2 separate regions of the Homo sapiens genome follow, and region 2 is linked to region 1. Evidence: fine-mapped expression QTL. A gene starts in region 1. The other region holds a variant in brackets. All regions are shown on one strand. Distances are from middle to middle.

Region 1 (4,375 bases):
TCTTCCCAACCTCTTGCGCCCATTTGACAGTTTAATAAACTGAGGCTTGGAGAGCAGAAGCCACCTGATAGGGACACGCAAAGGTCCTGGCTGACTCCAGAGACAAGCATCTGGGCGAGGGCAGGCCCGCAGCCCGGATCTGGGCTGCAGTGACTCCGCCTGGAGGGCCCCGGGACCCTCGCCCCGCGCATGAGCACTCACCGAGGCCAGCTGGCGGCCCCGCGGCTCTCAGCCCCCAGGGCGGCGCCCCCAGCGCGGCGAACCGGCGCAGGCGGAGGTAGGTGACGCTGAGGCGCACGATGGAAGCCTTGTCCAGCTGGCTGGAGATGGCGCCGGGCAGCGGGAGAAGCTTGGCCAGCTCGAAGAACTCCAGGTTCTCCTTCCCGCGCCGCGAGCGCGCCGCGTTCCGGGACTTCTCCTTGCGCTGCGCCTGCAGGCTGGGCGGGCGGCGCGGAGGAGGTGTCGGCGGGGCCCCGGGGCTCAGGGGCTTGGGAACTGGGGGCGAGCCCCGCCTCCCGGGGCCTTGGGAACGGGACGGGACGTTGGGAGTGGATTCCACATCTCTGGAGGTGGGAGCAGACCGGAGTGTGGATTTTACACTCCGACCCAGGGACAGAACCTCGAGTGTCAATTCTGGTGGGAAGGAGGAGGAAGGGCGAGAGATTAAAGATGTTGGGCGTGAATTCTGAGGACCGGGACTAGAAGCAGAACGCAGGGGACCGGGCTCAGGACGGTAGTTAACTCAAGGTAAGACCTTCTAGCCCTAAGGGGCGGGTCAGGGAGCTGGGTGTGAACTGCCCCTTGGCACGGGGACAGAACATCGGGTGTGAATTGGACCCGGGGGGGGGCCCGCGGCCAGGGGGGCGGGGCTTTGCTCACCACGGTCCGGACGGCGCCTTGACCATCAGCCCGGGTAGAAAGTCCCAGGGGACGCTGGCGCCGCGGCCTCCCACGCATTTGACCTCGCTTCCGCCGCCACTGCCGGGATAGGGGGCCGCCATCTCCGGGGGGCTCGCTCAGGCGGGCTCCGAGCCCCGAGTCTCCTGCAGCGGGAGGGGGCCAGGGGCAACGCTTAGTGCCCTCGGGAGACCTTCTAGGGAAACTGAGATCCGTGCAGGGCTCAGGGTCCCAGCAAGGAGCTGGGGGGGGGGGGGCCTGGATGATGCCTCAGTTTCCCCTACCTGGAGGCCTCAGCTCCCACCCTAGCCGGCCCGGGGCTGGCGCTCCGGGTGAGGACGTGCCCCGCCGCCGCCTCCCCCGCGCCGCCCGCCAGCGCGCCCGCCTCACGCCCGCGCCGGGCCGGCTCCCGCATACCAATGGGCGCACGCGGCGCGCATACGGATCGAACCGGCCCGCGCGCTGCGTGCCAAGCATGCCCAAGCCGGGCGGGGGGCGGGCGCCTCCCGGGCCAGGCACGCACGCCCCAGCCCCCGGAGCCCTCTGCCCCGAGGACCCGCCCCCCAAGCCCATCCCCGGTGTCTGACTCCCCGGATCTGCACCCTGTTTTCCCGGCTGGGCTAAGGAGGCAGGGGGCAGAGGGCAGGGACCCCCATCCTGTGTCCTGCCCAGGGATCCCCCCAGCCTCTCGGGATGGCGCCACGTGTTCGGACCGCCACATCCCCACGACCACAACTTCCTCCCTGAAGACCCCGGCGCGCGAGCCCCAGCCCCGGACGCAGCCGCCGCAGCCTCTGCCCCAGGACGCCCCCAGGATTGACCCGACACTCGGGGCCCAGGTGTCCTGGTCTCCTGATCCCCTAACGTTTTCAGTTAGGTCTTCATTCCTCCAGGACCAGGCGTTCAGAACACCCCCTAACCCCAGGAACCAGGCCGCCCCCAAACCTCCCAGCCAGGTGTCCAGATGCCCCAGACCCCCGTGTCCAGGTCTCCCAACCCCAGATTTCTCCAGGACTCAAACATCCGTGCGCCCCTTCCCCCAGGCTCGGGATACCCTCGTCCCACCCCCTATCCCCCAGGACACTGGAGTTCCAGCCCCCCATTCCTCTGGGACCCAGAAGTCCCCCTCCTGCCAGCCCGCAAGCTTCCCCTACCCGCAGGACCGCCAGTCCGATTACTTGGCCGCAGAGCAGGCTCCGGGCGCGGCGTGGGGCCGGCCGGGCGGCGCGGAGGGGCAGCTCCATAGACCCCGGGGCGCGCGGGGCGCAGCGGGACGCGCGGGCTGTGGCGCCCAGCTCTCGGCGCCCACCTCGGCCTCGCAGACTTGGAGACGCGCGACCAGCGCTGCGGGCGGGGGCGGGGTCTGCCGGAGCCCCGCCCGCCGCGTCTCCGCCCCCGGACCCGCCCTGCTCGCCTTTCCCTGGTAGGGGGCCAAGCTACCCTGGGGTCCGAGTTCCCTTGCCCCACGGTAACGTCGGGGGTCAGAATGTAGCACCTCGGATCGGAGCTACCCCACTCCAAAAGGGGAACAGCGGAGTCCGGGCACTGTCTACACCCCTTCAGGAGGCAGTTAGTGCCCCAGCAGCCCCTCGGGACAAGACAGGTACCCTGCAGCCGAGCCCCATGTACGAGTGAAGACTCACGTCAGTGCTTCCTCCAGGGACACAAATCCAGAATTCGAGACCCTCCCTTTCCGGGAGAGAACTCCTGAGTGTCAGCACACTCTCCCCCCACAGGGCTGGGACTTCGCATCCAAACCCAACCCGCCTTAAAAGGGGGACATACACCTCCCTCGTCAGGGACCAGGATCCAGCTCTCTAAGGAGCTCCAGAGACCAGGATCCTGGCGTCTTATCTCCATCCCCCGCCGCAGGGACGGGAACCCTTACATCCAAGCTCCCCATTAGATCATAAATGGGAACTCAGGGGTTGTAGTACCTCGCACAGAGGACGGGAACCCAGGCGTCCAAGCCAGGCCTTCCCCAGTCTGATAGGAGGTCCTACAGTTCCCCTAGCTCCTTCTCTCCATGCAGCCCCCACTTCCCGTTCTCAGGGTCCTCCCTGGCATGGGGGTCTCCAGGCACTTAAAAGCCTCTACATGACCTTAACATGGGGAAAGAAAATGGAGCTGGGGCCGGGCGCGGTGGCTTACACCTATAATCCCAGCACCTTGGGAGGCCAGGGCGGTTGGATCACCCGAGGTCAGGAGTTCAAGGCCAGCCTGGCCAACATAGTGAAACCCTGTCTCTACTAAAAATACAAAAATTAGCCGGGTGTGGTGGTGGGCGCCTGTAATCCCAGCTACTCGGGAGGCTGAGGCAGGAAAATCCCTTGAACCTGGGAGGCGGAGGTTGCAGTGAGCCGAGATCCCGCCACTGCGCTCCAGCCCGGGTCAGAGAAGGAGAGTCCATTTCGAAAGAAAAGAAAAGAAAAAGAAAATGGAGCAGGGAGTCTTAGAAGAGGCATACAGTCAGGGGCTTGCAGGGAGCACGCGCTGGCCTTTGGTTGGGCAGATGGGGAAACTGAGGCACACACAAACACCCGTGTGCATTTGCTCACAACACACAAACTCATTCATGATCCTCATAGTTAACACTTAAGGGAGTGCTTGTTTTTTGCTAATACTTTATTTTATAGCAAGATTCTGAGATGGGCTCTGTTACTAGATGCATTTTACAACTAGGGAAACCGAGACATGGGGAAGTGATATAGCCTGGTGATAGTGGCCTCTCAGACAACAGATCCTTATTTATCCCCAGAGAGACTTGCTAGAGTTTCAGGGCAAGGAATCAAGCTCAGATCATGGGCTCCTGTCTCCTGACAGCACTTCCTGGCTGTGCAGCCTGGGCAGGTGCTATGCCAGCCATGAGAGGTACACTTGTGCCATTAATTAATTAATTAATTATTTTTGAGACACAGTCTTCTCGCTCTGTCACCCAGGCTGCATGATCACTACTCACTGCAGCCTTGAACTCCCAGGCTCAAGAGATTCTCCCACCTAGCCTCCTAAGTGGCTGGGACTACAGGTATGCACCACCCCACCCAGCTATTTTTTAAAAATGTTTTGTTGGCCGGGCGCAGTGGCTCATGCCTGTAATCCCAGCACTTTGGGAGGCTGAGGCGGGTGGATCACCTGACGTCAGGAGTTCAAGACCAGCCTGGCCAACATGGTGAAACCCCATCTCTACTAAAAATACAAAAATTAGCTGGACACAGTGGCGTGCACCTGTAGTCCCAGCTACTCAGGAGGCTGAGGCTGGAGAATCGCTTGAACCTGGGAGGCGGAGGTTGCAGTGAGCTGAGATCACGCCACTATACTCCAGCCTGGCAGACAGAGCGAGACTCCGTCTCAAAAAAAAAAAAAAAGTTTTGTAGAGAGAGGGTCTTGCTATGTTGCCCAGGCTGGTCTTGAACTCCTGGCTTCAAGCAATCCTCCTGCCTCAGCCTCCCAATGTGCTGGGATTATGGCGTGAGCCAGG
Region 2 (4,375 bases), 34 kb before region 1:
ACCATGCCCGGCTAATTTTTTGTATTTTTAGTAGAGACGGGGTTTCACCGCGTTAGCCAGGATGGTCTCGATCTCCTGACCTGGTGATCCGCCCACCTCGGCCTCCCAAAGTGCTGGGATTACAGGCGTGAGCCACTGCTCCCAGCCGTTTTTTTTTTTTTCTTTTTTTGAGACAGAGTCTCACTCTGTCACCCAGGCTGGAGTGCAGTGGCGTGAACTAGGCTCACTGCAAGCTCCACCTCCCGGGTTCATGCCATTCTCCTGCCTCAACCTCCTGAGTAGCTGGGACTACAGGCGCCCACCACCACGCCCGGCTAATTTTTTTTGTATTTTTTAGTAGAGACGGGGTTTCACCATGTTAGCCAGGATGGTCTCGATCTCCTGACCTGGTGATTTGCCCGCCTAGGCCTCCTAGAGTGCTGGGATTATAGGCGTGAGCCACTGCGCCCGGCCATTTTTTTTTTTTTTAAGATGCAGTCTCGGCCGGGCATGGTGGCTCACGCCTGTAATCCCAGCACTTTGGGAGGCTGAGGCGGGCGGATCACGAGCTCAGGAGATCGAGACCATCCTGGCTAACACGGTGAAACCCCATCTCTAGTGAAAATACAAAAAAAATTTAGCTGGGTGTGGTGGCGGGTGCCTGTAGTCCCAGCTACTCGGGAGGCTGAGGCAGGAGAATGGCGTGAACCCGGGAGGCGGAGCTTGCAGTGAGCCGAGACTGTGCCACTGCACTCCAGCCTGGGCGACAGAGCGAAATTCCGTCTCAAAAAAAAAAAAAAAAAAAAAAAGATGGAGTCTCACTCTGTCGCCCAGTCTGGAGTGCAGTGCAGTGGCACTATCTCAGCTCATTGCAACCTCAGCCTCCCAGGTTCAAATTGTCAGGCCTCTGAGCCCAAGCCAAGCCATCGCATCACCTGAGACTTGCAGGTATACATCCAGATGGCCTGAAGTAACTGAAGATCCACAAAAGAAGTAAAAATAGCCTTAACTGATGACATTCCACCATTGTGATTTCTTCCTGCCCCACCTAACTGATCAATGTACTTTGTAATCTCCCCCACCCTTAAGAAGGTTCTTTGTAATTCTCCCCACCCTTGAGAATGTACTGTGTGAGATCCACCCCTGCCCGCAAAACATTGTTCTTAACTTCACCGCCTATCCCAAAACCTCTCAGAACTAATGATAATCCACCACCCTTTGCTGACTCTCTTTTCGGACTCAGCCTGCCTGCAGCCAGGTGAAATAAACAGCCATGTTGCTCACACAAAGCCTGTTTGGTGGTCTCTTCACACGGACGCGCATGAAATTTGGTGCCGTGACTCGGATCGGGGGACCGACCTCCCTTGGGAGATCAATCCCCCATCCTCCTGCTCTTTGCTCTGTGAGAAAGATCCACCTACGACCTCAGGTCCTCAGACAGACCAGCCCAAGAAACAACTCACCAATTTCAAATCCGGTAAGCGGCCTCTTTTTACTCTTTTCCAACCTCCCTCACTATCTCTCAACCTCTTTCTCCTTTCAATCTTGGCGCCACACTTCAATCTCTCCCTTCTCTTAATTTCTATTCCTTTTGTTTTCTGGTAGAGACAAAGGAGACACGTTTTATCTGTGGACCCAAAACTCTGGCGCCGGTCACGGACTGGGAAGGCAGCCTTCCCTTGGTGTTTAATCATTGCAAGGACGCCTCTCTGATTATTCACCCACGTTTCAAAGGTGTCAGACCACGCAGGGACGCCTGCCTTGGTCCTTCATCCTTGGTGGCAAGTCCCGCTTTTCTGGGGGAGGGGCAAGTTCCCCAACCCCTTCTCTGTGTCTCTACCCCTTCTCTGCTTTTCTGGGGAAGGGACAAGTACCCATCAACCCCTTCTCCTTCACCCTTAGTGGCAAGTCCCGCTTTTCTAGGGGTCAAGAACCCCCAATCCCTTATTTCCGCACCCCAACCTCTTATCTCTGTGCCCCAATCCCTTATTTCCATGCCCCGACCCCGCTTCCTGCTTTTCTGGAGGGTAAGAACCCTGAACCCCTTCCCTCCGTGTCTCTACGCTCTCTTTTCTCTGGGTTTGCCTCCTTTACTATGGGCAAACTTCCACCCTCCATTCCTCCTTCTCCCTTAGCCTGTCTTCTCAAGAACTTAAAACCTCTTCAACTCACACCTGACCTAAAACCTAAACGCCTTATTTTCTTCTGCAATGCTGCTTGACCCCAATACAAACTCGATAGTAGTTCCAAATAGCCAGAAAATGGCACTTTGAATTTTTCCATCCTGCAAGATCTAAATAATTCTTGTCATAAAATAGGCAAATGGTCTGAGGTGCCTGACGTCCAGGCATTCTTTTACACATCACAGTCCCTTCCTAGTCTCTGTGCCCAATGCAACTCGTCCCAAATCTTCCTTCTTTCCCTCCCACCTGTCCCCTCAGTCCCAACCCCAAGCGTTGCTGAGT[G/C]TTTCTAATCTTCCTTTTCTACAGACCCAACTGACCTCTCCCCTCCTCGCCAGGCCAAGCTAGGTCCCAATTCTTCCTCAGCCTCCGCTCCTCCACCCTATAATCGTTTCATCACCTCCCCTCCTCACACCCGGTATGGTTTACAGTTTCGTTCCGTGACTAGCCCTTCCCCACCTGCGCAGCAATTTATTCTTAAAAAGGTGGCTGGAGCTAAAGGCATAGTCAAGGTTAATGCTCCTTTTTCTTTATCCCAAATCAGATGGCGTTTAGGCTCTTTTTCTTCAAATATAAAAATCCAGCCCAGTACATGGCTCGTTTGACAGCAACCCTGAGACGCTTTATAGCCCTAGACCCTAAAAGGTCAAAAGGCCGTCTTATTCTCAATATACATTTTATTACCCAATCTGCTCCTGACATTAAATAAAACTCCAAAAATTGGAATCTGGCTCTCAAACCCCACAACAGGACTTAATTAACCTCGCCTTCAAGGTGTACAATAACAGAAAAAAAGTTGCAATTCCTTGCCTCCACTGTGAGACAAACCCCAGCCACATCTCCAGCACGCAAGAACTTCCAAACGCCCGAACCGCAGCAGCCAGGCGTTCCTCCAGAACCTCCTCCCCCAGGAACTTGCTACACATGCTGGAAATCTTGGCCACTGGGCCAAGGAATGCCCGCAGCCTGGGATTCCTCCTAGGCCGCGTCCCATCTGTGTGGGACCCCACTGAAAATCGGACTGTTCAACTCACCTGGCAGCCACTCCCAGAGCCCCTGGAACTCTGGCCCAAGGCTCTCCGACTGACTCCTTCTCGGCTTGGCGGCTGAAGACTGACGCTGCCCGATCACCTCGAAAGCCCCGTAGACCATCACAGACGCCGAGCTTCGAGTAACTATCACAGTGGAAGATAAGTCCGTCCCCTTAATCAATACAGAGGCTACCCACTCCACATTACCTTCTTTTCAAGGGCCTGTTTCCCTTGCTTCCATAACTGTTGTGGGTATTGACAGCCAGGCTTCTAAACCTCTTAAAACTCCCCAACTCTGGTGCCAACTTAGACGATACTCTTTAAAGCACTCCTTTTAGTTATCTCCACCTGCCCAGTTCCCTTATTAGGCCGAGACACTTTAACTAAATCATCTGCTTCCCTGACTATTCCTGGATTACAGCTACATCTCATTGCTGCCCTTCTTCCCAATCCAAAGCCTCCTTTGCGTCCTCCTCTTGTATTCCCCCACCTTAACCCACAAGTATAAGATACCTCTACTCCTTCCTTGGCAACCGATCATGCACCCCTTACCATCTCATTAAAACCTAATCACCCTTACCCTGCTCAATGGGTAAGGCCTTTTAAGCCTATAAACTCTCCTTACAATTCCCCCATTTTACCTGTCCTAAAACCAGACAAGCCTTACAAGTTAGTTCAGGATCTGTGCCTTATCAACCAAATTGTTTTGCCTATCCACCCCATGGTGCCAAACCCATATACTCTCCTATCCTCAATACCTCCCTCCACAACCCATTATTCTGTTCTGGATCTCAAACATGCTTTCTTTACTATTCCTTTGCACCCGTCATCCCAGCCTCTCTTCGCTTTCACTTGGACTGACCCTGACACCCATTAGGCTCAGCAAATTACCTGGGCTGTACTGCCGCAAGGCTTCACAGACAGCCCCCATTACTTCAGTCAAGCCCAAATTTCATCCTCATCTGTTACCTATCTCAGCATAATTCTTCATAAAAACACACGTGCTCTCCCTGCTGATCGTGTCCAATTAATCTCCCAAACCTCAATCCCTTACAAAACAACTCCTTTCCTTCCTAGGCATGGTTAGTGTGGTCAGAATTCTTACACAAGAGCCAGGACCGCACCCTGTAGCCTTTCTGTCCAAACAACTTGACCTTACTGTTTTAGCCTAGCCCTCATGTCTGC

Evidence for each region. PIP is the estimated chance that this variant, and not a neighbour inherited with it, causes the effect. A credible set is the group of variants that fine-mapping cannot tell apart.
Region 2: its variant is the best candidate, but not a certain one, in a credible set for the expression of NPAS1 in visceral fat (GTEx, PIP 0.52).

What each region holds. Positions count from the first base shown.
Region 1 is chr19:47,017,674-47,022,048 of GRCh38, reverse strand. It overlaps NPAS1 (neuronal PAS domain protein 1), which reads right to left and starts at 2,212. Exons shown (of 12, transcript NM_002517.4): 1 at 2,052-2,212; 2 at 880-1,043; 3 at 202-437. The coding sequence starts at 1,001. RefSeq lists a silencer at 2,216-2,275.
Region 2 is chr19:47,051,910-47,056,284 of GRCh38, reverse strand. No RefSeq gene overlaps it. Among named protein-coding and RNA genes, the nearest start is that of TMEM160, 5.5 kb to the right of the region's middle. RefSeq lists an enhancer at 1,236-1,792. The variant G/C (reference allele first, on the strand shown) is at 2,445.